7 linked regions of the Homo sapiens genome follow. The protein of the gene in region 1 interacts with the protein of each later gene in a pairwise test. Each region holds a gene or a part of one and is shown in the gene's direction. Other genes may lie near its edges.

What was found.
Region 2: the proteins of ARAF (region 1) and ASS1 interact in binary tests that used the Homo sapiens proteins (3 or more experiments, as listed by UniProt).
Region 3: the proteins of ARAF (region 1) and PRPF6 interact in binary tests that used the Homo sapiens proteins (3 or more experiments, as listed by UniProt).
Region 4: the proteins of ARAF (region 1) and PBK interact in binary tests that used the Homo sapiens proteins (3 or more experiments, as listed by UniProt).
Region 5: the proteins of ARAF (region 1) and CPS1 interact in binary tests that used the Homo sapiens proteins (3 or more experiments, as listed by UniProt).
Region 6: the proteins of ARAF (region 1) and NUDT14 interact in binary tests that used the Homo sapiens proteins (3 or more experiments, as listed by UniProt).
Region 7: the proteins of ARAF (region 1) and COPS3 interact in binary tests that used the Homo sapiens proteins (3 or more experiments, as listed by UniProt).

Annotation. Positions count from the first base shown.
Region 1 is NC_000023.11:47,563,985-47,568,236, forward strand, and holds part of ARAF (serine/threonine-protein kinase A-Raf), read left to right. Parts: intron 1-812; coding exon 813-915; intron 916-1,000; coding exon 1,001-1,155; intron 1,156-1,258; coding exon of another isoform or gene 1,259-1,267; coding exon 1,268-1,366; coding exon of another isoform or gene 1,367-1,370; exon of another isoform or gene 1,371-1,991; intron 1,992-2,654; coding exon 2,655-2,796; intron 2,797-2,899; coding exon 2,900-2,927; intron 2,928-3,001; coding exon 3,002-3,147; intron 3,148-3,245; coding exon 3,246-3,448; intron 3,449-4,252. UniProt on the Homo sapiens protein: Involved in the transduction of mitogenic signals from the cell membrane to the nucleus. May also regulate the TOR signaling cascade. Phosphorylates PFKFB2.
Region 2 is NC_000009.12:130,479,111-130,483,362, forward strand, and holds part of ASS1 (argininosuccinate synthase), read left to right. Parts: intron 1-605; coding exon 606-690; intron 691-1,274; coding exon 1,275-1,339; intron 1,340-4,252. UniProt on the Homo sapiens protein: One of the enzymes of the urea cycle, the metabolic pathway transforming neurotoxic amonia produced by protein catabolism into inocuous urea in the liver of ureotelic animals.
Region 3 is NC_000020.11:63,994,058-63,998,309, forward strand, and holds part of PRPF6 (pre-mRNA-processing factor 6), read left to right. Parts: intron 1-858; coding exon 859-1,035; intron 1,036-1,269; coding exon 1,270-1,425; intron 1,426-4,252. UniProt on the Homo sapiens protein: Involved in pre-mRNA splicing as component of the U4/U6-U5 tri-snRNP complex, one of the building blocks of the spliceosome.
Region 4 is NC_000008.11:27,820,571-27,824,822, reverse strand, and holds part of PBK (lymphokine-activated killer T-cell-originated protein kinase), read left to right. Parts: intron 1-1,617; coding exon 1,618-1,760; intron 1,761-2,334; coding exon 2,335-2,504; intron 2,505-4,128; coding exon 4,129-4,252. UniProt on the Homo sapiens protein: Phosphorylates MAP kinase p38. Seems to be active only in mitosis. May also play a role in the activation of lymphoid cells.
Region 5 is NC_000002.12:210,559,392-210,563,643, forward strand, and holds part of CPS1 (carbamoyl-phosphate synthase [ammonia], mitochondrial isoform b precursor), read left to right. Parts: intron 1-4,252. UniProt on the Homo sapiens protein: Involved in the urea cycle of ureotelic animals where the enzyme plays an important role in removing excess ammonia from the cell.
Region 6 is NC_000014.9:105,172,201-105,175,889, reverse strand, and holds the end of NUDT14 (uridine diphosphate glucose pyrophosphatase NUDT14), read left to right. Parts: exon of another isoform or gene 1-402; intron 403-2,628; coding exon 2,629-2,869; 3' UTR 2,870-2,951; downstream 2,952-3,689. UniProt on the Homo sapiens protein: Hydrolyzes UDP-glucose to glucose 1-phosphate and UMP and ADP-ribose to ribose 5-phosphate and AMP. The physiological substrate is probably UDP-glucose. Poor activity on other substrates such as ADP-glucose, CDP-glucose, GDP-glucose and GDP-mannose.
Region 7 is NC_000017.11:17,245,725-17,250,607, reverse strand, and holds the end of COPS3 (COP9 signalosome complex subunit 3), read left to right. Parts: intron 1-1,568; coding exon 1,569-1,682; intron 1,683-3,047; coding exon 3,048-3,128; intron 3,129-3,456; coding exon 3,457-3,510; 3' UTR 3,511-3,992; downstream 3,993-4,883. UniProt on the Homo sapiens protein: Component of the COP9 signalosome complex (CSN), a complex involved in various cellular and developmental processes.

The DNA of each region.
Region 1 (4,252 bases):
CTGGGTGGGATGGTGCAGGATTTCATCACGCTACTCAGAATGCACGTAATTTAAAACTTATGAATTGTTTATTTCTGCAATTTTCAATTTAATACTTTCCCACCCGGTTGACCACAGGTAACTGAAACCATGGAGAGTGAAACCACAGATAAGGGAGGACTACTGTAGTTCAAGTAATCTATGAGTTCATCCATCTTTTGTTTTGTTACTTCATTGGTTTATTGGCCTGTAAGGTCAGCAACTCATTCTCCCCTGGCCCCCAAGTCCTCACCCTGGTCCATCACTTCTGCCCAGATTTCATCTATTTTGTCCTTTCACGATGTCATGACTTCATCAGGTCTCTTCTTCCTCATTTTCCCCATTCTCTGTCTGCTGAGTTGGGTCTTGCTGACTTTATTTATTCCTCTCTCGTGGGTTTCCTTAATTTATGATGCAGTTCACACACTGCACTTTATTTGTTGTTTCAGTGCCTCCTCAGCCCCCTTTTCAGGGGCTGGCTTAGCGCTTCTAAGATGTAGTTGTTTAGTTTCATTTGCTTCTCCCCTTCCGTTTCAGAGCATGGACTCTTCACACCGTCATGCCTCTCATTACCCTTGTGGCCCAGGGCCAGTCACTTTATCCCTCTGAGCCTGTTTCCCCATCTGTAAAGTTGGGGCAAGGATAGTGACTAATTTCTAGAGTTGCTGTGATGAGAATTAAACATGCCAGACATGACCCTGTGGGTAGCAGGCTTGGAGGGACTTGTGGGGGTTCCCTGCCTCCCCATGGCCCCTACCCAACCTCCCACTCATTCCTTTCCATGCCCCCTGCAGACGAAAGACGGTCACTGCCTGGGACACAGCCATTGCTCCCCTGGATGGCGAGGAGCTCATTGTCGAGGTCCTTGAAGATGTCCCGCTGACCATGCACAATTTTGTGAGTGCAGGGTGGACGGTGGGGGTGGACCATGGTTGGGGGTGTCCTTGACCAGGTCTCAAACTTCCCTGCTCTGTGGCATCAGGTACGGAAGACCTTCTTCAGCCTGGCGTTCTGTGACTTCTGCCTTAAGTTTCTGTTCCATGGCTTCCGTTGCCAAACCTGTGGCTACAAGTTCCACCAGCATTGTTCCTCCAAGGTCCCCACAGTCTGTGTTGACATGAGTACCAACCGCCAACAGTGAGCCCAGCCTGGGGTGGGTGGGGGGATGGGGAGCACAGAGGCCCAGCCACGAGGCCCTTACAGACAGCTGACCCGTGTCCCCTTGCTTTATACCCTTCATGCCCTCAAGGTTCTACCACAGTGTCCAGGATTTGTCCGGAGGCTCCAGACAGCATGAGGCTCCCTCGAACCGCCCCCTGAATGAGTTGCTAACCCCCCAGGGTCCCAGGTAGGGATGCCTTAGCTGAAGAGCTGCTGGGGGAGAAAAAGATCTTGGGGCTCTTGTAGACCACGAGCCATACTTTATTCATTTGTTTACTTGACAAACATTTATTGAGCACCTACAAGTGTGAGTAAGGGCATGAAACTGGGACCTTGGGCAAGTCACCTCATTTCTCTGGGCCTCAGTTTTCTCATCTGTAAAGAGGGGATGATGATACTTTCTACCATATAAAGGTTCTGGTGAGGCTTAAATGAGTTAAGACATGTTCAGTGCCTAGAACAGGATCTGGTACAGTGTAAATAATCAATTTTTTTGTTATTAATTATAAATATATTTATAAGCATCTAACTACTTTGCTAATTCTAGTATAATCATACTCAAGCCTTTCCATTTTGAAATACGTATTATTTTATCATAAATTACTTCCCTTTTATTGCTTTTTTATGTTAAATATTATATAAAACTATAGCTATATTAAAATATATTATTGCTCTAATATATATTTTATGATGTGCATATTTTATGGTATATTTATGTTATTGTATCATGTTGTATTACATAATTTTATATAATGTAGAACATCATACATGTTTATATGATACATAAAATAAAGTTAGGGTATTATTTTAAATTATGAGTGTATGTGCATTAATTACCTTTGAGTTTCATTTCAGGATAGTGAAGGGAACATTAACATATTTTTGTAACTTTACAATATGTTTAGCATATATCATATGTATAACATGTATGTATAACAATATGGTAATATGTATATTTTAAAACATTGCCATTTTTATATAGATGATACATATTATATAACATTTGAAAAGTACATGTAATTATAATATATAATTATAAAATATGATACATTACCCTTTCCCCACTATCTGTGTGGCCTGCTATCCTGCCTTTAGGCGTTTACTCCATTGTCATCTCCTCCTCAGAGAAACCTTTCCTGACACTTTCTAGGAACACTTTGTGTCTCCTTATTTTGCTTTACTATTTTTCTTTATTGCACCTATCACCATCAGGCATATTATATATTTGTTTTTTATTTCAGCCCCACCAGGGCAAGAACTGTTATTTTGTTTTACAGTTTTATCTCCACCACCTAGAATGGTATCTGGCACACAGCAGGCACTCAATAAATGTTTCTTGAAGCAATGAATAATAGTACTGCCAGTGGACATTCGCTCTGTGTGAGCCAAATGCATGTTTATGGCTGGGGGTGGGGTGGGGGGCTTTCTCGGTTCTCTGATTCCTGGCAGTGATTTCACAGCCTTTCCCCTGGCAGCCCCCGCACCCAGCACTGTGACCCGGAGCACTTCCCCTTCCCTGCCCCAGCCAATGCCCCCCTACAGCGCATCCGCTCCACGTCCACTCCCAACGTCCATATGGTCAGCACCACGGCCCCCATGGACTCCAACCTCATCCAGGTTGGTGCTGTGGGGGACAATGCCGGGGACCACAGGGCAGAGGGTAGAGCCATCCCTGTTGGCCTCCATGCCCTCTTTTTGACTCCTGTCCCTCTTCTTCTAGCTCACTGGCCAGAGTTTCAGCACTGATGGTGAGTCCCCTGTGCCTGCACCCTGACCCCCGCTGCCCCACTTACCTCCACTCACATCCTCTCTGCAACTGCAGCTGCCGGTAGTAGAGGAGGTAGTGATGGAACCCCCCGGGGGAGCCCCAGCCCAGCCAGCGTGTCCTCGGGGAGGAAGTCCCCACATTCCAAGTCACCAGCAGAGCAGCGCGAGCGGAAGTCCTTGGCCGATGACAAGAAGAAAGTGGTATGCTCGAGGGGGATCCTTTTGGGGCCACCAAGGCTGAGTGACGTGGGATGAGGGATGTGGGCAGGCCTCTTAGATGCCACCCATCTGGCCCACAGAAGAACCTGGGGTACCGGGACTCAGGCTATTACTGGGAGGTACCACCCAGTGAGGTGCAGCTGCTGAAGAGGATCGGGACGGGCTCGTTTGGCACCGTGTTTCGAGGGCGGTGGCATGGCGATGTGGCCGTGAAGGTGCTCAAGGTGTCCCAGCCCACAGCTGAGCAGGCCCAGGCTTTCAAGAATGAGATGCAGGTGCTCAGGTGAGGTGGCATGTGTGCGTGGATGGGGGTGGCAGGCCCGGCCTTGGCATCTCTCTGGGAAAAGGCCATGCTTGGAGTGCTTCCTGGACATCACCTGTGTTTGTGTTGTTAAACCATCATCAGAAGTTGTTTCTCTCTGAAGGGTGTCCCTTTCCCCTCTGGGAAATGAGTATGTTTAGAGGACCTGTGATCATGCAGTTGTTTGTGTTTGGGTTATTAATGAATGGTTCTGCCTCCAAAATGTGGGTCTTCTCATTTGCCTGCTGCGAACTGGGTCTGTGTGTGGGCCACCATTCTTGTTACTGCATTGCCAGGAAGGCTTCCATCTTTCCTTCCCCTCTGCTTGGGCTACAATGGTAATGTTCTGTTTATAGTGTTGGTTCTTGTTATTCATTAATTCTAATACCTTGATTTAAACAATATTATCATCATCACCATAATCTAATCATTGCTTAATTATTATAATTGCTGTAATATGTAATCAATACAGTATTCATCTAGTCACGCTAAGAAAGCCAGGTGTCTCCTTTTTGCTGCTATAGTTACTATGTAGCATAGTACTGTATACCTATATACTACAGGTAGTACTGGATAGCGTCTACCAACCCTGGGGATGTTGGCATTGGCTTTTCCTCTGTGTCAGATGGGCACAATTATGTTACAGAGAATAAGGTAGCTAATGCAATGATCAGTTTTACAGTTGAGGAACATGAGGCCCAGAGAGGTTAAATGTCTTTCCCAAGGTTGTACCTTGAGTACCTGGTGAGGCCTAGATTTGAACATGAGTCCAGACTCCAAGCTCTT
Region 2 (4,252 bases), on another chromosome or scaffold:
CAACCCCTTCCCTCCTGCCACCCCGGACCCAGCTCCTCGGATTCAGGGACGCTGCCGACACCTCGCCTGCTGGAGCGGGCACCGTGTCACCCCCATCAATCAGATGGCTGCGTGTGGGTCTGGGGTACAGGGTCGGGGCGCGGGGTCCGCCTGACAGACGTGGCAGGGGGCTGTGTGTGTGTGTGTGTGTGTGTGAGCGAGTATGTGTGTGCTTGAGCCCAGCCACACCTCGGCCAGGCGGCCCCCGGGTGACTGGTGGGACAGAAGGTGCTCCCGGCGTAAGACAATGGTGGAGCGTGAAATTCAATTAGTTCAGGGCCTGGTTCCAATTTCACAGCCCCTAAATGCAAAAGGGGCAAAGAGAATGGGAGGGTGGGGGAGAGCGTTTTTATTGCATTTTCTCTTTCATTCTGGGGGGCTTTCTCGCCCCTTCTCTCCCTGCAGCAGGCCTCAACCTGCACAGGGCTTTTGAAGGAGTCATTTGGAGTCCATATCTGTCACATCCATTTAAGGCGTTTCGGGAGGAGGGAGAGGGTGGGGTGGCGGGTGCAGACTCCTCCGCTGAGCCGGGCCCAGAGGCCCACTGCCCTCTCTTCCCACCCTAGGGGTCCCTGTGAAGGTGACCAACGTCAAGGATGGCACCACCCACCAGACCTCCTTGGAGCTCTTCATGTACCTGAACGAAGTCGCGTGAGTGTCTGCAGCCCTGTCCGGCCTCTTGGGAACCGCCGTCTCGGGCGAGCACGAGCCTGGACCGTTGCAGCTAATGGTTGTGGCTGAGGCTCAGGGGTGCGGAGCACAGGCCATGTCCCTTCCCCATAGCCACAGAGTTTCCCGGACCAGGGGGACCCATTTGGCAGGAGAGGCTCCGTGGTCCTTAGCCTTGGAAGATAACAACCCCAGGAGGTCTCCTGCCTCCAAGGGATCATTAGGCCGGGGCTCTCAGGCCCTTGGCTGGATGGGAGGCCAGGATAGAAGGAAAGGGAGCAGTAGTTAGCTGTGGCGCTAGGCAGGGCCCCAGGACACAGGGAACGGAAGGAACAATGTGAACTCACACCTGGGCAATCCCTGCTCTCTCTGGGCCTCAGTTTCCCCACCTGTCCAGTGGGCACCTGGACTAGGTGACCCGGCTCAGATGTCCTCTTGAGTCTTAGATCCTGAAATGCTGCCTAATGTGTGGCCTAAGCTGTGCCCACCCTGGGACAGCCCAGCTGGGTGGGTGACTCTGAGCCTTGCGGTAGCGCCCGAACCTAATGGACCAGTTCTTCCCACAGGGGCAAGCATGGCGTGGGCCGTATTGACATCGTGGAGAACCGCTTCATTGGAATGAAGTCCCGAGGTGAGTCTGCTCAGCCTCCCTCAGGGCCTGCCTCGGGACCCAGCAAACCCAGAGATCCCTGAGACCCTGTCCCCTTTGGACGCTACTACCCCCATGCTCCGTGGGCGACCTTGGGCACGTCCTTTCACCACACCCCGTGAGACCGCAGTTTCCCTCCTGCCAAGTGGGGATCGTGGGCCCTTTGCCCCTGACTTTCAGGGTGTTATGAGAAGAGCTGTCCAAGGGCTGGGAGAGGCCCAGGAGGGCCTGGGGAGTCTCCGAGGAGCAGGGAGGCCAGGGCCAGGCCTGGAGGTCAGGCTGTCTTGTGTCTGGGGTGGGCAGGCCGGGTGTGGAGGCAGACCGTGCAGGCCCGATTTCGTGGTCATTAAGGCCGCATGGAGGCCGCCGGCCAGGCAGGGCGAAAATCCTGCCAGGGGTGGGCGCTGTGGCTGCACAGGCACTGGGAGCCGGCCAGGGCCTAAGGACCTGTCCCAGCATCAGGCACGGCTCACTGGCCCTTTTCTCCAGGGATGGGGCTGTGCCACAGTTGGGGCTGTGCCGCAGTTGAGGCTGAGCTTCAGTGTGACATGCCTGCCACCTCGGCTGGCCTCTAGCCTGCCTAGCCTCGTATCCGCCTGTGGCTGGGCCCAGGAGCAGGGCAGTTGGTCCCCAAGCAGGTGCCTCTGTCTTCTCTTAGTAGCCAAAGCCCATGATTCCCTTTGTCAGCCAATCAGCATTTCATCTTGACCACAACCCTCCTCTCCAGGACTCAGTTTCCCCATTCATACACCAAGGGGATCTCAGCTCCCTGAGGGTCTGCCAGTGTGTGATAAAGCCATGCTGTGTTCTTTCTTGGGGGTCCTAAGAGGGAAAGAGCAAGGTTTCAGCAGTTGCAGCCCCTGAATTGGGCACCTGAATTTTTATACTGGTGGTGGGGTCAGGGCTTCCTGTTTCGGTAAATGTTCAGGTCTCTTTGCTTAGGGTTGATTTGAAAAGATACCACAACCAAATATCACCTGGCCACGGTATAGTCACGGCCCCATGTCTCTCAGGCTATTTTTACTAAGATTCTAAAATCCAAAGAGAGCCGATCACCCCATGTGGGCCAGAAGAAAAGGGTGGTGGTCCGGAGGGCAGGATGCCTGCTTCTGGTCTCAGGTTTGCCCTGCCTTGCCCAACAACCTTGGACTTGTCATCTATCGCTAGGCCTCAGTTTCCCCAAGTGTAATGCGGTAGGCGCTGGGAGTTGCATCACTCTGGCTCTGACCTGTCTGCGTTTCCCTGGAAAGGCATGGCAGCATGGACCGGGGCGGGGACGGGCTTGCCTCGAAAGACATGGGAGCGCGGAAGGGGAGGCAGGCTCGCCTCTTTCTTGTGGCTTTAGCTCCTTGCTTGCTGTTATTCAGGAGAAACAACCTAATTGAAGCTCTGGGGAGGCCTTGAGAACAATGTTACTAATTAGCTGCTCCTTTTTATCCGGGCTTACCTTTGTCTCTTACCTATATTAACATGTGATTAGATGCCCCTTTGTCGCAGCCTGCCCTTGGGAGCCAGCGCGGTGTGCACCCTCCAGGGAGAGCTGGGAGGGACCTTGAGGAGCCACAGACCAGCACCCCATTTACAGATGCGGAAGCCAGGGCTGGGGAGGGGTGGGATAGAGGGCTTGCTTCAAGTCCCAGGCACTTTAGTGGCAGGACCAGGACTGCCATCTGGGCCCAGAGTGGCATGGAGTGGAGGGCTAACAGCTTAGACTGGAGTTGGACAGATCTGGGTTCAAACTCATGTATGGTGGCAGGAACTGGTACACTGGAAGTGCTCCATAAATAGCCATCAGTCCCCCGGGCATGTGGAATGGGGACAGAAGCAGCCCCCATCCTCTGGGAGCTGTCAGTGTGGCGGGGGGTGGGGTGGGTTCCAGTATTGCACCTGTCTTATCATAATAAGGGCCTGCCACAGGCATGCCCTTGCCATGCCTGTGGCAGGCATCACCAGTCAATGCTGGCATTATCCTGTTGACTCCAGAGGTATCTCAGGGCTGCTTGCAGGCACTACCAAATGATCAGGATTGGCATACGTGATGAAAGTGTATTGCCTTCCCTATTGGAAAGATAAGGACTGGCCTGAAGTCACTGTGAAATGGCATCCTGTGGGGTGGGGCGAGTCAAGCAGAGTTGAGCAAAAATGAACTGAAGGAGGTGGTTAGTGATGAAAACCTGGAATGCACTATTCTGAATGTGGAATGGTAGCTGACAGCATTCCACGGAGGCTGGACCTTTTTCCCAGAATGGGGGCCTCATCCCCGTAGAAGGTCAAAGCCATGAGATCAACAGTCTGTTCCAATCCCCGTGGCTCCTTACCACCCACCTGGGGAAAGCTTCCTGGAGCCCAGCCTTCACTCTGCCCTGGTACTTTGTGTGTGCTGTTGGAGGCTCTCCCCAAAAGCACAGAATTTAGTCAGTGTCGTACAGGGAAGAAAATCGGGATTCTGACGGCAAGAACTTGCTGTGTGATCTTAGGCAAGTTTCTCCCTCTGGAACTCCAATTGTCAAGGGGCCAGATGAGGAGGTCGTATCATCTCCCTCTGAATGTCCTCACTCACCTATTTTCTTGCTTTGGGTTGGGGAGAGAAGACAAAGTTGCTAGGTAATTTTAGGGTGGTGTCTTGTTTTTATTTCTCTACTCCAAATATTTCATGTGAGAAGGAAAGAGGAGAGACGGTAAATTAGGGCACTGTGGATTCCCCCATGACAAGGTTTTTATTAAGTGTACAGTAATGAGAGAAGCTGTTAATCGTCAATTATATTGAGGGCAGAACAGAAAGATGCTATTGTCCGTATCTCGGTGTACAAGGGGAACATGTCATTTGTATTGATTTTACAAAGCTCGTAATTGAAATTCGTTAAGGGCTGATTTTTTTCTCTGGGGGGCGGGGGC
Region 3 (4,252 bases), on another chromosome or scaffold:
ACGTAAGATTTTCTAAACTGTGTCCCCTGGGCTTTGAGAGAATAATTTACATTTTAGTGAAGTTGAACAGATCCAATAAATTGATTTTTCTTTTCTTTTTCTTTTTTTTTTTTTTTTGAGACGGAGTTTGGCTCTTGTTGCCCAGGCTGGAGTGCAATGACGCGATCTCAGCTCACCGCAACCTCCGCCTCCCAGGTTCAAACGATTCTCCTGCCTCAGCCTCCCTAGTAGCTGGGATTACAGGCATGTGCCACCATGCCCGGCTAATTTTGTATTTTTAGTAGAGATGGGGTTTCTCCATGTTGGTCAGGCTGGTCTCGAACTCCCGACCTCAGGTGATCTGCCCGCTTTGGCCTCCCAAAGTGCTGGGATTAACAGGCATGAGCCACCGTGCCCGGCCTAAATTGATTTTTCTAAGTGAAGTAGAAAACTATTTTTGGGGCTGGGTACAGTGGCTCACATCTGTAATCTCAGCACTTTGGGAGGCTGAGGTGGGAGGATCACTTGAGCCCAGGAGTTTGAGACCAGCCTTGGGGAGAACCTGTCTTTACAAAAAATAAAAACTTAGCCAGGCATGGTGGCCCACGCTTGTGGTCCCAGCAACTTGAGAAGCTGAAGTGGGAGGATCACTTGAGCCTGGGAGGTTGAGGCTGCAGTGAGCTGTGATTGTGCCACTGAATCCAGCCTGGGCAACAGAATGAGACCCATCTCAAAACAAAAGTAAAAAACAGTTGCTGCATCCAAATCCCTTCTAAAGCTTGGTGATCTGGAGGCTAGGGGTGAGAGAGGGCATGGTCCTACCTGGGCACATGAAATTCTGTCAGAGAATTAATGTTTTTGGGGGCTGGATATTTCCAGAGGAAGTTGGCAGAAGTCACAGAAGAAGAGTGGCTGAGCATCCCCGAGGTTGGCGATGCCAGAAATAAACGTCAGCGGAACCCACGCTATGAGAAGCTGACCCCTGTTCCTGACAGTTTCTTTGCCAAACATTTACAGACCGGAGAGAACCATACCTCAGTGGATCCCCGACAAACTGTGAGCTTCCAAAAAAGGGCACATGTGGCCCATTTAGTCCTGTTAGATCAGTGGCAGGAATGGTGGGTGGTGTTGGATTCAATGCTTCTGCAGGTCATGGCTATGCTGTGGCCGAGTCTGTCTGCACAGCTGTGCATATGTCAGGCCACTGGGGAAGTATTTCAGAGAGTAAATTTCTTGGGCATGCAGTGCAAACCGTTGTTTTATTCTTGCCTTTCCTCTCTTCCCCTCCAGCAATTTGGAGGTCTTAACACACCCTATCCAGGTGGACTAAACACTCCATACCCAGGTGGAATGACGCCAGGACTGATGACACCTGGCACAGGTGAGCTGGACATGAGGAAGATTGGCCAAGCGAGGAACACTCTGATGGACATGAGGCTGAGCCAGGTGAGTTTGTCACACAGCATTTTCCTGTGGACAGGTTTAGACAGTTTAATTTTGTTTTGTTTTCTTTTTCTCCTTCTTCTTCTTCTCCTTTTTCTTCTCCTCCTTCTCCTCCTCCTCCTTCTTCTCCTTCTCCTTTTTTTTTTTTTGGCTTGATTTTTGCCTGAATAATTCCGCAGATTTTTAAAATTTTGACCCAGAGTCTTGCTGTGTCACTCAGAGGCTGGAGTGCAATGGTGTGATCTTGGCTCACTGCAACCTCCACCTCCTGGGTTCAAGTGATTCTCCTACCTCAGCCTCCTGAGTAGCTGGGATTACAGGTGCCCACCACCACACCCGGCTAATTTTTGTATTTTTTGTAGAGACGGGGTTTTACCATGTTGGCCAGGCTGGTCTTGAACTCCTGACCTCAGGTGATCTGTCTGCCTTGGCCTCCCAAAATGCGGGGATTACAGGTGTGAGCCACTGCACTTGGCCTTTTTTTAAAATATAAAATAATAATTTTTTAAAAAGTGTGTTTTTTTCCTGCCTCTCAGTAAATTGTCTTGTGGCCCTGCATGGAACGTGTACTTTGATCTGGAGACTAGGTGCTCTAGACACCAGTGAAGTACAGAACTCTTTCTGATATGCATATCAGATACCACGAAGGAACATACTACTTTTGGCCTGGCCAACATGGTGAAACCCCGTCTCTACTAAAAATACAGAAATTGGCCAGGTGTGGTGGCGGGCGCCTGTAATCCCAGCTACTTGGGAGGCTAAGGCAGGAGAATTGCTTGAACCCGGGCGTTGGAGGTTGCAGTGAGCCGAGATTGCACCAGTGCACTCCGGCCTGGGCAACAGAGTGAGACTGTCTCAAAATAAAAAACAAAAACAAAAACAAAAAGTGGCACAATCATGGCTGGCTACATACAGCCTTGACCTCCCTGGGCTAAGGCGATCCTTCCACCTCAGCCTGCCAAGTAGCTGAGATTACAGGCATGTGCCACCATACCCAACTAATTTTTGTATTTTTTGTTGAGATGGGGTGTCACTAGGTTGCCCAACCTGGGCTGGAGCTCCTGGGCACAAGTGATCTGTCCGCGCTGGCCTCACAAAGTGCTGGGATTACAGGTGTGAACTACCATGCCCAGCCTGAAATTTGTTTACATAGAAATTGTAAAACTTTTTGGGCCAGGCACTCATGCCTGTAATCCTAGCACTTTGAGAGACCAAGGTAGGAGGATTGCTTGAGGTCAGGAGTTCAAGACCAGCCTGGGCAACATGGTGATGGTGAGACTCTGTCTCTACAAAAACTAAAAGAAATAGCTGGGCCTGGTGGTGCCTGTAGTCCCAGCTGTTCGAGAGGCTGAGGTGGAAGGATTGCTTGAGCTAGGGAGTTTGAGGCTGCCATGAGCTATGATCGCGCCTCTGCACACCAGCCTGGGTTACGGAGTGAGACTGTCTCAATAAATAAATAAAACTGTCACAGTAATTTTTTTGTGGTAAAATATATGTAACACAGAATTTACCATTTTAATCATTCTTGACTGTACATACCTTCACTGACATAATTATGTTCATGTTGTTATACAACCTCATCACCATTCATCTCCAGAACTGTTTTCATCTTCCCAAATTGAAACTCCGTACCTGTTAAACATTGAGTCCCCGTGCGCTTTCTCCCCAGCCCCTGGCATCCACCGTTCTCTCTGTTTCTATAAATGTCACTACTCTCTGGATCTTATATGACTGGAATCATACAGTATTTACCTTACTGTGACAGGCTTATTTCAATTAGCTCATGGTGCAGCATGCGTCAGCATGTTCTTTTTTTTTTTTTTTTTTTTGAGACAGAGTCTCTCTCTGTCACCCAGGCTGGAGTTCAATGGCATGGTCTTGGCTCACTGCAGCCTCCGCCTCTCGGGTTCAAATGATTCTCCCACCTGAGCCTCCCAAGTAGCTGGGACTACAGGTGTGCACCACCAAGCCCAGCTAATTTTTTTTTTTTTTTTTGAGACGGAGCCTGGCACCGTCACCCGAGCTGGAGTGCAGTGGTGTGATCTCGGCTCACTGCAACCTCCACCTCCTGGGTTCAGGTGATTCTCCTGCCTCAGCCTCCCGAGTAGCTGGAACTATAGGCGTGTGCCACCATGTCTGGCTAATTTTTGTATTTTTAGTAGAGACGGGGTTTCATCATGTTGGCCAGGATGGTCTTGATCTCCTGACCTCGTGATCCACTCGCCTCAGCCTCCCAGGATGCTGGGATTAGAAGTGTGATTTTTTTGTATTTTTAGTTAGAGATGGGATTTCACCATGTTGGCCAGGCTGGTCTCGAACTCCTGACCTCCAGTGATCCACGTGGCTCGGCCTCCCAAAGTGCTGGGATTACAGGCATGAGCCCCGGCGCCCCGGCCAGCATGTTCTCAGTTTAAGGCAGGATGAGACTTGACTCTTTGGTGTGTGTGGACCGCATTCGCTCATCTATGTAGACCGCATTCGCTGACCTGTTTATTCGCTGACGGACACTTGGACCACTTTCACCTTTTGACTATTGTGAATAATGCTGCTGTGAATACGGGTGTACAGATATTTGTCAGAGACCCTGCTTTCTATTCTTTCTTTTTTAATAAAAATTTTATTTATTTTTTTTTGAGACGGGGTCTTGCTCTGTCACCCAGGCTGGAGGGCAGTGGCGTGATCTCGGCTCACTGCAGCCTCTGCTTCCCAGGTTCATGTGATTCTCCTGCCTCAGCCTCCTGAGTAGCTGGGACTACAGGCATGTGCCACCACGCCTGGCTAATTTTTGTATTTTTAGTAGACACGGGGTTTCACCATCCTGGCCAGGCTG
Region 4 (4,252 bases), on another chromosome or scaffold:
TCAATTTTTGCATCTGATATAAGTGAAGTTGGCTTGTGGTTTTCCTTTTTCTACTGTCCCTTTTGATTTTTTAAAATTAAAGTTATATGAGACTCATAGTACCTTTTCTGTTCCCTGGGGAAACAGTTTGTATAAGATTGAATGGTAAATTCTTTGAAAGCTTAGTAAACTCACCTGTAAAATCATCTGCACTTTGTATTTCTAGTAGGAACATTTTAAACTGGTGATTAAATTTCTTCATTCATCAGTTTTCTTAGATTTTTCTAAGTCTTTGACCATTTTGTCTTAAATGATTGCATAAAGATTTTATTTACTTACATATTTTTTCTCTTGTATCTGTAGTTTTGTTTCCATTTTTATTTGTGATATTGTCTTTATTTTTTCTTGTGTAATCTCATCAGAAATTTGCCTTTTTTCTATTAGTCTTTTTAATGAACCAGCTTTTTGCATGGTTGAGTATTCAGATTTCATAAATCTATTCTTATTCGATAGATTAGAATATGTTATGGAAAAGGTGAAGATTGACTTGTTTACTAAATTCTAAACTTTCAAGAGCTAAACTTTCAACCCTTGAAATTTGAAAAATATATTTTTCATAATAAAATGATATGCAGGTGCTCATCATTATCCTCAAATGCTGCTGTTATTTAAAACTGGAGGTTTAAGAATAGTTTAGATCAACTTACGGATGATAGATGTACATGAATTAAGAAATCTTGTGATCCTTTTAGTATAGGCTTTTTGATTAAACAAAAAAGGTTCTGCAGTCTTAGAGCTATACCTGTGAGGGAGTCCAAAGCTAAACAGATCTTTGATTCAATCTCTTGTTTTGTGTTCTTACCATTAAACTTTCTGTCTTAAACTTCTGAGGCTCTTTCACTAGGTTTTGTGCTGTTATGCTGCATATACTTAAGTATTTTGTGATTTGCTCTACTCATAAATATCTACCACCTCAGGTAAACCTTTCCCTGACTTTATTTTACCTATTTAGGCCTTAAAACATTTATACCTTAAATATTTGTAAAATGGCTGAATCTTCCTAGAAAATAGAAAGTTTAAAATTTTCTCATTTGTATGTTCATCATTATCTCCTTAAGCACATATCTTTGAGCATGTGGTAAAAGGTATAAGGTGAATTGGTCAGTGTAGGGGAGCAATAAGAACAGCATGCTGTTCTTTGGATGATGATATATGGGTAAAATGTTCTTGATTATCTCTTCTTTAAATTTCCTAATGTTTTTTTCTTCAGGATCCTATAACTCATCTCTGATACATATAATTAAATATTTAATAAGTTGTAGTCCAACATGCTCAAATGGAAAAATTGGAAAGTTACAATTTTCAGGTTTAAAGTTTGTAACATTCCATCTTTACCCTTCAAATTCTTTTCATCCTCTCCCTTCCACAGTATAGATAGTAAGACTTGTTTTAGTATATTAGATCTTACCTCCCAATTGAAATGGAAATGTAGCAGAGGTGTTCATAGTCCAAACTATTTTAAATTCTGTTTTTAAAAGCAAATTTCTTTCAAGCTTTTTCCCAAAAATTTGGAAGTCATTTTAAAAAGTATTGTGGTTTTATTGTTTTCTATCCTTTTTAAATGAATTTTTTTCTTAGATCTCCAAGAGGTTTGTCTCATTCTCCTTGGGCTGTAAAAAAGATTAATCCTATATGTAATGATCATTATCGAAGTGTGTATCAAAAGAGACTAATGGATGAAGCTAAGATTTTGAAAAGCCTTCATCATCCAAACATTGTTGGTACGTTTAAATTTGGTAGCAGTATCTGGTATATTATTTTGTTTATTCAGAAACAGCTTATATGCTCTCTTAACTGGTTTCACTAATAGAAATGAAGAGGATGGGGCTGGATATTTAATGGGTATCAAATTAATGTGATTGGTCTAAAATAAAAATTTGCATATAGTATTTTTTGATGCCTAAGTATATAAACTTCATGAGAACAGATATAATAATTATGTTGCTAGTTCTATGAAGATTTTAAGAATATAAAATGATCTTCATTTAGATAATTTAAATCCATTTAGGTAATTTCCTGGATTTCATTTTTCATTTTTAATACAAGTAGGGCTGGTGAAACTATTATATTTAGGGAAGCAAAGGAAAATAAAAGTATTTTAATTTGTGGTACTACTGGCAAACACTGAAGGCATTTTAAATGAGATCTACTGAATTAGTCTTGTAAATAGTAGCTGTTTCATTGTATATTTGTCAGCGTTAGTCCAGATCCATATTTTCAATCACGTTACTATAAAGGACTTAAATATTATTGTTCTTCTCTATATTAGTGAAGAAATGTCATGTTTTCTTTAAGGTTATCGTGCTTTTACTGAAGCCAATGATGGCAGTCTGTGTCTTGCTATGGAATATGGAGGTGAAAAGTCTCTAAATGACTTAATAGAAGAACGATATAAAGCCAGCCAAGATCCTTTTCCAGCAGCCATAATTTTAAAAGTTGCTTTGAATATGGCAAGAGGGTTAAAGGTAACTATGTCATTATATTTTAAATGACTTCTGTTTTTGTTCATATTTTAAATGAACAAATAATCACTTTGCAGGACATCTTTGAATGTGGATGGATATTGTTACTTGTCAGTTCCAAAAAGGGGTTAGCGGAAAACAAAATAGAGGCTTACATTTCTGCTTCCAAATTACATTCATGTGTAGCTTAATATGTTCTGAGAAATGTGTCATTTGGCAGTTTCATCACTGTGCGTGCGGACATCATAGAGTGTACTTACACACACCTAGATGGTAGAGCCAACTACACACCTGGGCTATGTGGTATATATAGCCCAGTTCTCCTAGGCCACAAACCTGTATAGAATGTTACTGTACTGAATACTATAGGCAGTTGTAACACAGTGGTAAGTACTGTGTGACTAAACATATCAAAACATAGAAAAGGTAAAATCAAAATATGATATTATAATCTTATGGGACCACCGTCGTATATGTTGTCCATCATTGACCAAAACATCCTTATACGTACATGTGGCCCTAGTCATTCATTGTCCCACATGGTCTCAACAATTTATGTATGCTTCACTGAAGATTCCAAAATTATTTCTAAAAATTACTAGACTAGCCTCAAAATTGTGGTATCTTTTGAAATCTGCAGTTGTATCTTCTGATATAAAGTATGTAGGATTAGTTAACTTACCAAGTTAACCAATTTATAAGTATAGTTAACTTATAAGCTGTCGGTATATATACATACTTATATATAAAAATAGTTAACTTGGCTGGGTGTGGTGGCTCACGCCTGTAATCCCAGCACTTTGGGAGGCCAAGGCAGGCAGATCACGAGGGCAGGAATTTGAGATCAGCCTGGCCAACATAGTGAAACCCCATCTCTACTAAAAATACAAAAATGAGCCGGGCATGGTGGCGGCACCTGTAATCCCAGCTACTCGGGAGGCTGAGGCAGGAGAATCGCTTGAACTTGGAAGGCAGATGTTGCAGTGAGCCAAGATCGCGCCACTGCACTCCAGCCTGGGCAACAAGAGCAAGACTCTGTCTTGGAAAAAAATAGTTAACTTATAATTATTTATTTTATAAGTATAAAAGGTTAGCAGAAGTATCTATTTCTAAATAAACTTTTAGACTTCTGGTCAGTATGGCAGACTGAGATAACATGGGATGTTCCCTTCTCTTGTTTCAAATACTTTGAAATGCTGGGCACAGTGGCTCATACCTGTAATCCCAGCACTTTGGGAGACTGAGGCAGGCGGATCACTTGAAGCCAGGAGTTCGAGACAGACCAGCCTGGTCAACATGGTGAAACCTCGTCTTTACTAAAAATACAAAAATTAGCCAGGTGTGGTGGTGCCCGCCTGTAGTCCCAGCTACTTGGGAGGCTGAGGCAGGAAAATCACTTGAACCCAGGAGGCGGAGGTTGCAGTGAGCCGAGATCGTGCCACTGCATGCCAGCCTGGGCAACAGAGTGAGACTCCGTTTTAAAAAAAAAAAAAAAAATTTTGAAACGCTGGACAAATGTAAACCTAGAGTTTAGGAAGGGAGTTCAAGTTGTTATATTTGGAGGTTATCACATTTTTTTATTAGTTTGTGTTTCTGCACATATGTGTTAAATTTTTTACTATTTTAGTATCTGCACCAAGAAAAGAAACTGCTTCATGGAGACATAAAGTCTTCAAATGTTGTAATTAAAGGCGATTTTGAAACAATTAAAATCTGTGATGTAGGAGTCTCTCTACCACTGGATGAAAATA
Region 5 (4,252 bases), on another chromosome or scaffold:
CAGCAATGACGCACTTATAATTTTATGTGGCCCTTCCCTGGGTATTTGTCAGCGGCTAATATTTATAGAGTGCTTTGCCAATCGGCACAGTTGTATTTTACTTACAGGAAAGAGGAAAGAATTTCAAGGTGCTCTATATTTTAAAGAAAGTTGATATCAAGGGTATAAATGATCAACAACCATAAAATACTAAATACTAAAAAGTTTTAGATACCATAATCTTTTTCCATTAGTACTGAAAATGTTCAGCACTCATTATTACATTCAGCAGGCTGTAACAGTGTAATAGTGGGATATACTCTGGATTGGGCACAAAAAGATCTGGAATCTAACCCCTGTTATGCATTTCCTAATGCCCTGTTCTTGGACAAGTCACATATTCTCTGAACCTAAGTTTTGTCATCTGTATAGTGCAAATGATGACTGATTTACTTGACAAATTATGTGATTGTCACACATGAACAATTCTCAAAAATCTTTAAAGTTTTAAATTTAAACCATTAAACTGAACATTTTAAAGCAAAAACTGGATATTTAAAAAAAAATTCCATTCTATACATTTTAGTAGAAGGACTTAGTAGAGGGTTAGATCAAAGAGTCCTTATGTTTTTTATGGACTACAAGTTGTTGCAATGACAAGGTATTTGATAAGAATTCTCAAATATTTATAATAATGATTTGTTCACCTTTGCCTTAATATTAAACATCTCTAAGAAGATATTTCTTATAATAAATCAGACTCAAGGAAAATGAAGCAAATAATCTTTTTTTTTCAGTATGGCAAATTTAATTCCAAAAGGCAGAATAGACACCATAATAACCTATTTCATTCATTCATTCATTTATTCTTTAATAAACACGGAACCTCTACCATGGGAGTATACAGGAAGAATGATAAATAGAAATAAGTGGATCATAAGAGTATAGTCTCTGATTTCAAGAAACTTACAGACTTCAGAATTCTGAGTTCACAAGTCTGGGAAAGTCATCAAAGCTAAATAGTTTTATTTTTACTTGCAAATGAATTTGGAAATCAAAAGTATTAAATTGTAAAGCTTAAGTTCCCTATGAATAGAAAAGTGTTCAATAAGTACTCCTTCTAACATTAATCCACTCATTTTTTAACAATGGTGACCTGTGTTATAATTAAGCTAGGAACCTAACAATCCAAGTGTCCTCTCTGATACTTCAGCTACGAATGAGCACTGGTAGTCATTATTTCTTTTGAAAGGCATTCATTTTTAAGATTTTATATTCTGATTTTCACATAGAAGTATCTATTTAGTTCCGTCTTGAGGAGCTATTGTCATTTGATTAGAAATTGGCAACTATAAAAACTCCTACAATTAGAATAATTTACTTACATTGTAGTAGCTTTAAAGATAGTCACAGGAAATATAACTCATTATCATATTGGAGCCTCTGTACACGTTAGATGTAAGAGTGGGGATGGGGTTATCACACACTTTTAAGAATAACTATTTTATTGGACTTTTACTACATATAGACACATTTTAGGACGGATTTCATCTATGGCAAACTACATTTTTGAAATATTAATTGTGTTCAGTCCCAAATGAGCTGTTGCAGAATTAGTTTGCCTGATGGACAACTTTACATACTTTTGGCATGCAATACTTCTCTAATTGGGAGATGGCCTTTCTTTTGAACATTTTAATTTTTTCCATTTTTTATATCCCCAATTTTCTAAAATATAGATTCATTTATTAGTCACCAACAACGCCTTGACATTATGAGCTTCTTGACATAAAACTCTTGAAAAAACTATAGTTTAAATGTCCTAGACTAGGTTAAGTGAGTGAGGTACCTGAGATGCAAAATTTAAGGAGGCTGTCACTGTTAGTGTCATGGTGTATCTCTTTGAGAGTTAGGCCCTAAGCACATCACTCAGTACCCTAGTCCCAGCTTTGGGTCAGAAGCTAAGCATTCTGGCTGTAGAACTGCCCAAGGGACTAGTACTAATCTTGACCTGTGCTTTCCTCTCCCTCATTCCAATTTGCTCATGTCTAGCCAGACTTTCTGACGATCTAGAGGTGACATTAGGTCTTATTGCTATGGAAATGGAGACTATTCCTCTGCCTTTACATCTGTATTAGACTTTCTTCATATTTCCAACCTGTTCCAAAAATTGAGGGGTGCTGTAGAAAGTTTTCAGTATCTCTTAGGCAATGGGCATGCTAGAATTCACTTCAAGCCTTCAGGAGGAGTTTGGTATGCTACGCTGACTGCCCTTGATGGGATTTGTATTTCCTGGGGCATTTGCAATGACGGAGGCCCGAAAAAAGCTGCGCGGGCCAAGGTCAAAGTTTGTGTTAGGCTCCTTAGCCCTAGGGATCTTTAGCTTCCATTTGATTTTCTTCATGTGATCTAAATGAGTTGAACTTATAAAAATATTTTCAAGGCTACTCTGTTTGCTTTTTATTTTTTTCAACTTGTTAAATGCTATACATTGATCTTTTAAATTTCATAGGGAGGTAACTGACTAATTTGAAGTTCTCATAAATGAATCAATAGGGTTGCTACATTATGAAAGAATTTTACTAAGTTTCTTCTATAATGCAGACTGAAATATAAGACCATTTTAATTTATCACCACCATACAGTAAAAATTAGCTTATGATATGTAGGTTCCTCCAGGATTCTGAACAACTTGCCACATAGCAGATGCTCAGTAAGGCATATTAATAAACCTACACTTTATGAACATACTTTGTAATGAAATTTTTATAAATGCTGTATTTTATTTACAATGAGAAACCTTATTAGAATAAAAATGATTCATAAATCTTAATCTTTTGTTTATAAATGTTCAAACATAAAAGTACTTAAGTAAATTAACCTTTTGATTTTGTCCCCTTAACATTGGCTTATGTTTAACCAAAGACCGATGACTTAATATTAACTTGGAATGTTGTAAGATTATTAACTGAGAATGTGGTAAGGCCTAATTGATTACTGCTGTTACAGTGCTTCAGAATTTTGAAGTGTTAGGCCTTGTAACTGCAGAGAAGTCTCATGAAATATTTCAAAGACAAATTGTGCTGAAATTCTAAATTTCAAAAATCCATATCTTAATAGTGTAATTCCAAGAATAAAAGAATAAGATTTCATTTACTTGATTTTAACTTTTTACCATATTATCTACACAATAATTACCTGAAATAAATTCTGGCTTTAGGCTTTCTACTTTTCAGTGCTTAGTTCAGATTTATTTTTTAAGAGGATGAGTACTGAGGCGAACTAATAGCTTAGAAACATCAGGTAAGCCAGAAAGCACGTATGTTATATAGCCTTAGGCCTTGGTGAAAATGGAAAAAAAACATGTGGGGCCTCTACTTTTTCTGAAGTGCAAATAGTTTACGTAGATAAATGATTCAACAGCAATACCATAATCCCAGAGTAAATTATTTTCATTTTTACTACTAGCTCAAGGGAATTACTGACTTTTAAATGGTGTTTTTTTTTTTTTTTCAAACCTTTTATGGAATCTATTGCTGAATTAGCTTAAGGCTTTACAGGCAGAACATTTTAGTGGTGGAGTCTCATATCTAGGAGAAGAAACATTTCTGTTCCTCCCATTTCACAGATATGTAAGTGCTGAAGTTAAAACAAGGACACATGGATGCCTGTTTTTGTACGTAAAACAAAATATACATTAGCAAATTTGGTTAGAATTTTAATTAGGCTTCAAACAACAGATGGATCTTTTTAATTTGAAGTTTTGTTATTGTACTTATATACCCGATGCCATAGTTGTGTTTAACCTGGCTTCAGAATGTTCTAAGTCATTTCTTCTGCTGTTATTTTATTGCTTACTCAAGGGCTCATTTACATACTGAATGTTATGGCAATACGACACAAATTTGATTTTTCCTTTTCTTTTTTTGAGAATAGGTTGTTTAAATCAAAGCATAAGGAAGGATTCTTGCTTTATATGGCTGTCAACAATTATATAAATAGGACATTTTAGGGCAATGCTGTTTACAGTTGACGTATTTCTTCCATTTCAACCTAAATATTGTCATGTGTTTGTAACAAAACATGCTGTTTTTCAGTTTCAATGTGTTTCTTCCTCTTATAGTCCTGTAAGCTCCACATATACAAAAGCCTAATGCAATTTTAGGCTGCAAGAAAAGTCTCATTTTGACTTGTTTTCCATCTTGATATAAAAGACCCGAAGAAAACTGGTTCGAAGTAAAGGATCGATGTCCTTAGAATTAGTTCAGAATGC
Region 6 (3,689 bases), on another chromosome or scaffold:
CCTCCTCCAGAGGCCAGGGCCCGCTCCACTGGGAGAAGCACCGGAAGTCTCTGCACCTGTCAGCCTGGCACATGGGCCACTCAGGGTTGAGCCTGGGGCCCTCCCACCTCAGCAGCCTCAAGGACTTCACCTGGGCACGTTCCTGGCTGGATGGGTGGACTCCCAAGTTAAAGGCAGCATTTCCACGCTGGGCCAGGCACGGTGGCTCACGCCTGTAATCCCAGCACTTTGGGAGGCCGAGGCAGGCGGATCACCTGAGGTCAGGAGTTCGAGACCAGCCTGACCACATGGAGAAACCCCGCCTCTGCTAAAAGTACAAAATTAGCCAGGCGTGGTGGCAGGAGCCTGTAATTCCAGCTACTCAGGAGACTGAGGCAGGAGAATCGCTTGAACCCAGGAGGCGGAGGTTGCGGTGAGCCTGAACCCAGGAGGCGGAGGTTGCGGTGAGCCGAGATCGCGCCATTGCACTCTAGCCTGGGCAACAAGAGCGAAACTCTGTCTCAACAAAACAGAATTTCCATGCCGAAGGGTGGACTTGGGTGTGAAGGATGGGCCTTGGTTTTCTGCAGGTGTCTACCCCGTGGTGGGCCACGCCCACTGTGCCCCCAGCTCCCCAGCCCATAGTACTGAGCACAGCCGGGAGGCATGGGAGGGGCTGGAGTCCCCTTGGTCCCCCTGGAGGAGGTGGGCCTGGGCAGGTTCCTGGCAGAGGGACCGCACAGGCTCTCAGGGCAAGTGGTCAAGCAGCCCTGGCCGCGGTGGTTCTACTGGTACAGCCTCTGGGCCACAGCCTGATTGTGAGGGTGCTGGGGAGCCAAGGAGGGCTCTGGGAAGTAGGCATCCTGCTTAGACTCGCATCGGGAAGAGCAGGCCGTGGCTTCAGGGATGCAGGACTGGAGATGCTGCTGACTAGGGGTCAGGGTGTCCGTCTCTGAGGGCCTGATGGGGGGCTGGACTGACAGCAAAGTTCACCCACCCTGTGGCAGGGCCCGTGGCTCCCTGTCTCTGATTCTGGAGGTGAGCCAGGCCTCTTACCTGCCGCTGCAAAGGACAAGGCCCAGGGAGGCAGTCAGCTTGGGGCGTGATGGAGTGAAGTTGGAACGTGCCCTGGGGTGGGGGAGGCGTTGCCCAGCCTGGCTGGCAGATTCCTCTCAGCCCGGGCCAAGGGCCGGGCCTGTCTCCTTCACAAGCCGGCGGAAACCGGGGCTGGAAACCCCAGACCCGCCACTTCCCTCAGAGGCGCAGCCGCGGCCGCCGCCGGAAATGGGCCATCAGGAAGGGGTCTGCGGGAGGTGAGGGGCTAGAGGGCAAGGAAGCAGCTGGGTAAGGTCGGTCTGGGGTGAGTCCCCCCGGAGGTGGGGAGGCCTTGGGGGTGGGGCATGGAAGCCCCCAGTTCTGTCCCTGCCCCTGTATGTTGGGTACATCTCAGAGGGCGGCCTCTACCCTGCAGGCCTCCGGCTGGCCTTGGTTCATGGCACCCGACAGCCCCTCCTGCGGCGAGCCAGGGCTCCCCCACCCCCTGGTCATCTTCCCAGATGCCCCTCAGTCCCGTTTCTCCCCAGATCCACACCTGGCCCTCCCCCTCCTGTTCCAGAATGCAGCCCAGCCCCTCTGCCATCCTGTCCTCCTAGCCCGTGGTCTCCCTCCACACACGCCAGTCCAGGCTCCTTCCCTTGGTGCCTGACCCCTCCTGGCTGCCAGCAGCCCCCTTCTGGCCACTGCCCACTGAGGGAGGGGGCTTCCTCTTACCCCTCCCCAGCCTGGGCCACTGGGCCTGGTACTGAGGACCTCGCTGCCACCCCACCCCACTCTGCCATGCTACGGGGGGTGGGGGGGCGGTCAGTGCATGCTGTTCCTAGTCTGAAACTTGTGTCCTGTGGGTGCCTGGTGGGGAACCCTTGCGGGAAGGCCTGGTGGGTTTGTCCCTGCTTCCCAGCCAGCCTGTGTCCCCGGGTATGGGCTGGGGTCTGGCATGGGCCTCTGCAGCTGGCCACAGACTGAGGGGCTCCAAACAGCACTGGGAACAGCCTCAGGGTATCTGGTTGGGGGCTGCAGACAGGGGTGGGGTCTTCTGCTTGGCCTTGACAGGTTGCAGGCAGGTTGTCAGCCGGATCTGCAATCTCATGGGGGCTTGGGGTCTTCCCGGCTCACGAGGTTATGGCAGAATTCAGCTCCTGGTGGCTGGGGACTGGGTCCCACCTCCCTGCTGGCTGTTGGCCCTTCCCAGCATGGCGGTTGCTTCCCCTTCAGGGCCAGCAGGACTGGCCTGAATTTCTCCCTTTCTGGCGTTGAAACACCCTCTGGAGGGCTTCGTGATCGGGCCATGCCCGCCTAGGATGCTCTCCCTTCTGATGAGCTCAAGTCACCGGTTAGGGTCCTTAATCACATCGACAACACCCACCCCACCTGGCGAGTACAACGTGATCAGGGAAGGGATGCCCTGCTGCGGGAGGGGCCACGGGCGTGCACACCAGGTGGGAATCCGGGTGGGAGAGGGCATCCCAGAGTCCTGCCTACTGGAGGGCTGGAGGGAGCAGAGTGGAGAGGGTGGGTTGGAGGGTGGTAGAAGGGCCAGGGGGCCAGCGGGGCCAGCGTGGGTGACTCAGCAGACCCTGTCTCAACCCGTAGGTCTGGAGTGGGACTGACTGGCTCCAGACAGACCATGTTCTACACAGAGGTGACAGATGCCCAGCGTAGCGGTCCAGGTGGGGGCCTGGTGGAGGAGGGTGAGCTCATTGAGGTGGTGCACCTGCCCCTGGAAGGCGCCCAGGCCTTTGCAGACGACCCGGACATCCCCAAGACCCTCGGCGTCATCTTTGGTGTCTCATGGTTCCTCAGCCAGGTGGCCCCCAACCTGGATCTCCAGTGAGACTCCAGGGTTCTAGACAGAGGCCAGTCTTGGCCACTCACCCCACACCCCGCGGACCCCAATAAAGGCTTGCATAGCTCCAGCTTCTGCCTGCTGGTTCTGAGCTCTGTGACCAGGGCCTTGGAGAGGACTGGGGAAGGGGCGGGAAGCAGTGACCCTGACCTGAGATGGCCCTCGGGACACGGCGAGCTCTCCTGTAGGAGGAGTAGCTGGTGGCAGGCCATGCAGGTGGTTGCTGTGGGGCTGAGGACAGGCCTGGGGATGCCATGGGCAGGGCCAGGCTGTGCCTCCTCTTGGAGCTGGGAGGGGTGGGGTCCGGGACTCATGGAGGGTGGCATGGCAGGCCTGGGGGTGGGCCTGCTGGTCACGGGGCTGCAGCATGAGCTGTGCTCACGAGAGTGGTGGCTGAGCCAGTCCTCAGGAGTTAGGATGGGGTGGGCAGCACTGCAGGCTGCACGCTGCAGGGAAAGTATGTTCCCTGCTCCTGGGGCAAGTGAGGGGTCCCCACCCTGACTGGGGCTGGGCTAGAGCCACTCCACAGGAGCCCGGAGCCAAAGCTGCCCTGTGTCGGGGGCCCCAGTAGCTGATCCGTGCACCCCCAGCCTTGGAAGTTTTCCAAGGGACCTTCCTCGGCCTGTGGGGTATGCAGAAATGTCTGCAGGCTTGCTCCAAGAGGAGCAGGTGGCGGCACAGGGTGGGGACACAAGGCCAGTGGTCTTGACATGGGCCAGGTTCCTGGTGCCAGCCCGGTCCTGGTCCCGGGGCACGGCCTCAGCCTGGGCCGCCCAGCACCAGGCTCTACTGGCCCCTGAGCATCTCT
Region 7 (4,883 bases), on another chromosome or scaffold:
CAAATAAATAATATATAGACCTTGAATCTACCTTGGAATCCCCAGTGGTAGTAAAGTTTTCTTGAAGAATCGGAAGATAGTTTCCACTGGGATGAAAAGAAAACGTGTTAGGCTTTACTTTTTAAAATACAGTGGCCCAGCCTGGCCAACATGGCAAAACGTCATCTCTACTAAAAATAAAAAAAATTAGCTGGGCATCGTGGCACATACCTGTAGTCCCAGCTACTTAGGAGGCCGAGGCAGGAGAATCCCCTGAACCCAGGAGGTGGAGGTTGCAGTGAGCAGAGATCAAGCCACTGCACTCCAGCCTGGGCAACAGAGCGAGACCCCATCTCAAAAAAAAAAAAAAAAAAGGCGATGTAAGTTATATTTCAGTGCAGCTGATGTTGAAAAATGCAAGGGCACCTCAAATACATCATGCTAAGGGAAGCCAGACCACAAAAGATTACATAGTATATGATTCCATTCATATATCCAGAAAAGGCAAATCCATACGAGACAAGAACAGATTGGTGGTTTCCAGGGGCTGGGAGGAGAAGGAGGGAATGGGGAGGGACTGCTAATGGGCCTAGGGCCTCTTTCTGGGGTGACGAAAATGCTCCAGAACTAGATAGAGATGGTGGTGGCACAACATTGTAGAATGCATTAAATGCCAATTAATTGCTCACTTTAAAAAGGTAGGCCAGATGTGGTGGCCCATGCCTGTAATCCCAGCATTTTGGGAGGCCGAGGCAGGTAGATCACTTGAGGTTAAGAGTTCGAAACCAGCCTGGCCAACATGGTGAAACCCCGTGTTTATTAAAAATACAAAAAAATGGCTGGGCGCGGTGGCTTACGCCTGTAATCCCAGCACTTTGGGAAGCCGAGGCGGATGGCTCACCTAAAGTCGGGAGTTGGAGACCAGCCTGACCAACATGGAGAAACCCTGTCTCTACTAAAAATACAAAATTAGCCAGGCGTGGTGGTGCATGCCTGTAATGCTAGCTACTTAGGAGGCTGAAGCAGGAGAATTGCTTGAACTCAGGAGGCGGAGGTTGCAGTGAGCCGAGATTGTGCCATTACACTCCAGCCTGGGCAACAAGAGCGAAACGCCATCTCAAAAAAAACAACAAAAAAATTAGCCTGGTGTGGTGGCGGGCACCTGTAATCCCAGTTACTTGGGAGGCTGAGGCAGGAGAATTGCTTGAACCCCGGAGGTAGAGGTTGCAGTGAGCCAAGAACGCACCACTGCACTCCAGCCTGGGGGACAGCGAGACTCCATCTCAAATAAATAAATAAATAAATAAATAAAATGGTTAATTATGTTGTGTGGACTTCACCTCAATAACAAAAATGCAAGGGCAGGGATTTTGTGTGTATCAGTTTTACACCTCTTAGCATCTATAATGGTGCCTAGCAAATAGTAGGTATTTAATAAATACTTGGATAAACAGATGGCGCTTAAAAATATACAAGTTTATTTATATCCATGTTGCCTTCCATGCTTTTCTGTGATTATACTGGATGACTATTCATATAGCATTCAGGTCTAAACTGCTTTCCTGATTTTTTTTTTTTTCTTTCTGCAGATAGAAGATGGTGAGATTTTTGCAAGTATTAACCAGAAGGACGGTATGGTCAGTTTCCATGATAACCCTGAAAAATATAATAACCCAGCCATGCTTCATAACATTGATCAGGAGGTAAACATGAATGCCAGGTTTTTATTTTTTTAATTGATGGTTGAGATGTATTTGAAAATTGCTCCTATGTTCCAGGATAATTTTAGTTTTAAGTACAGGTAGTTCCCAGTCTGTGAACATCTTAGTTACTAGAAAGTTAGTTTCAAAATGGGCTGCTTAAGGAGAATTGCTTGAACCCTGGAGACGGGTTACAGTGAGCCGAGATTGTGCCACTGTCCTCCACCTTGGGTGACAGAGCAAGACTCTGTCTCAAGAAAAGCAGCAACAACAACAAAAGAAACCCAGAATGGGCTGCTTAAAACTCTTCCAGGCTGGGTGTGGTGGCTCATGCCTGTAATCCCAACACTTTGGGAGGCTGAAGTGGGTGGATCAGCTGAGGTCAGGAGTTCAAGACCAGCCTGCCCAACATGGCAAAACCCCGTCTCTACTAAAAAAAATAAAAAATCAGCCGGGTGTGGTGGTGCACGCCTGTAATCCCAGCTACTCTGGAGGCTGAGGCAGGAAAGTCTCTTAGAACCTGGGAGGCAGATGTTACAGTAAGCTGAGATTGCGCCACTGCACTCCAGCCTGGGCAACAGAGGGAGACTCTGTCTCAAAAAAACAAAACTCTCTCAGATTGTATGGCTGTAAATAAATGGTGGGTTAGATATCCCAGCTAACTCATCAAAACCTCCCTTAACTGTGAAAACACTTAAAGGGCCCAGTATAACTTTATCTATTCCCAGCTGCCACCTACAACATAGAGCCTTATGTTTTTGCTGAAATGTCTGTGGAGTTCCAGGTTGGGAGGTTAGGAAACATCTCTCCCTATGTGAGAAGCAGAGTCGGGGTGGCTGGAGGAGAAGAGCAAAGCCCTCCCTGACGGTCCCCTTTAGGCAACAGCCTGGCTACAGCTGCAGCAGTCACCTCTGTGTCTCCTGAGGGCATGCTGCCTCTGATTCTGGGGGCTGAAGGGGGAGTTTTGTGGGTGGTCTGTGTTTCTTACCTCTGAGCAGGGAAGTGAACTGAATATTAAATCTCAGAAAACTATGTTTTTTTGTAATTAATTTAATGGCAAAATGTCACCTGAAATGGTGTCTAGTCTTCATTTATCTCAGCATGAATATACTCGTTTCACTGCAAAAGATACTATGTGTTTGATTATGAGGTTTGCCTAGATCCTGCTGGGTGGGATATTTGGTATTATATGATAGATGTATTAGCTTTCTGAGTCCAAAATACTCTGGCTCCAAAACCCATGTGGCCCCAGGGGTTTCACATCAAGAGATTGTGAACCTATAGCACCCTTGTGAACAGTGTAAGTTAGAAAGGATGCAGCTGACCTAAACCCGCCGCTGACCACCTTCTAATGTGCCTGTCATGCAGATGCTGAAGTGCATTGAGCTGGATGAGCGGCTGAAAGCCATGGACCAGGAGATCACAGTGAACCCTCAGTTTGTACAAAAGGTGATGAGGGTTCCCTTATTACAAGAAGTAGGCTGGGTGGAGAAGGAGGGGTGTTGTCACATCAGGCACAGGAACTAAGTTTCAGGTTATTAAATATTTCTTGAAAACCTTACCAGTACGGTCATGGAGAAATACTAGTTGAGAGCATTTTCAAATGATGGCCTGGAAGTACACTTAGGGATGCTTAGGGTGGTTCCTGGAATTGCCTGCCCTTGTTCACAGGGGGCTTTGTTCTGGGAGGGACAGGGCAACTGGTGTGCTTATTGGGCTGCCGGGGAACCCTTGATAAAAGCAAACATAAATACATAACTTCACTTTACCTTTACAGAGTATGGGCTCACAAGAAGATGATTCAGGAAACAAACCATCCAGTTATTCTTGAAACTAACATCCATCCTGAGCTAAACAAGAGAAACTACCATCTTGGCCAGTGACAAGTGTTCGGAGGGCAGCAGAGAGGACCAAGCCTGTGTCACCTGGAGACTAAGAAATTAAGTTTTGTTTTGACATCTTCAGTCCTGTGTGCTTTCAGAAAACCATTTTCTCTGCAAAGAAAGGAAACAGATTTGCAAACTTTAAAGTCTGTCGTGGATTTATTTATCCTCAGATTATTGTTACTGCATTAAATCTACCTTTTTGTTTTAAGTTGCTTGAACATTAATGTGTCTTCTGTATCACTTTTTTCTCCTCTGAAGTTTTTAATAAGCACATTCATTGTGAACAGAAATAGCTGGATTTTAGGAATTTTTGGAAGATTTGGATCTGAAAGGTTTTTATTTATTGACAAATTTGTATCTACAAAAAAATCTAAAAGTTGTAATCATTGTCTTCAGAAAATAAAAGAAAAGAAAGGCCAGACAGACACAGTGGCTCACACCTGTAATATCCTAGCACTTTGGGAGGCCGAGGCAGGATTGCTTGAGGCCAGGAATTCAGACCACCTTGGCCAACATAGTGAGACCCTGTCTCTGTTTACAAAAAAAAAAAAGGGTAGGAGCGTCCCTGAGGCATAAGCTAATTTTTAAAATTAAAATTAACATGCATATTAGTGAGAGTATGAGTTGTGGATTATGAGATGCCATTGGTGCTTCACTTTTTTTTCTTTTTTTTTTTAAGAGACAGGGTCTCTGTCACCCAGGCTGCAGTGCAATGGTGCCATCATGGCTTACCTAAACTTCCCAGGCTCAGCTGATTCTCCTACCTCAGCTTCCTAAGTAGCTGGGACTACAGGCGAGCACCACCACAGCCAGCCTTTTTTTTTTTTTTTTTTTTTTGTAGAGATGGGGTTTTGCCATGTTGTCCAGGTGGTGTCAAAAGCACTTTCCAACCTTTAGTGGGTGCTACACTTTTGTAGTCTTGAAAATGGCTTTTCTCCCCCTCTCAACTTACAGTTTTTAAGAGACAAATGGCAGGCTTTCCCACTTTTTCTTGTCAAAGCATATCAGGTAAACTGATAGTTGCATTTTGATTATGTTCAGGGCCTCTCCTGTCACAGGAATTTGGACTAGGATTTACTGATTTAGCCCTGGAATGGTGTGGAGCAGAATAAAGTGTGGTCAGGTTAAAACACATCAAATTTGTTCCTTAAAAAAATCTCTCTCACTACAAACATTCAGTTTTTAAAATGTTTCAAGTTGTCTGGTAAGGCACATTTTCATTATTTAAAAAAGAAACCTCAGCTGTGTGCAGTGGCTTACGCCTGTAATCCCAGCACTTTGGGAGGCCAAGGCAGGTGATCACCTGGGTCAGTAGTTT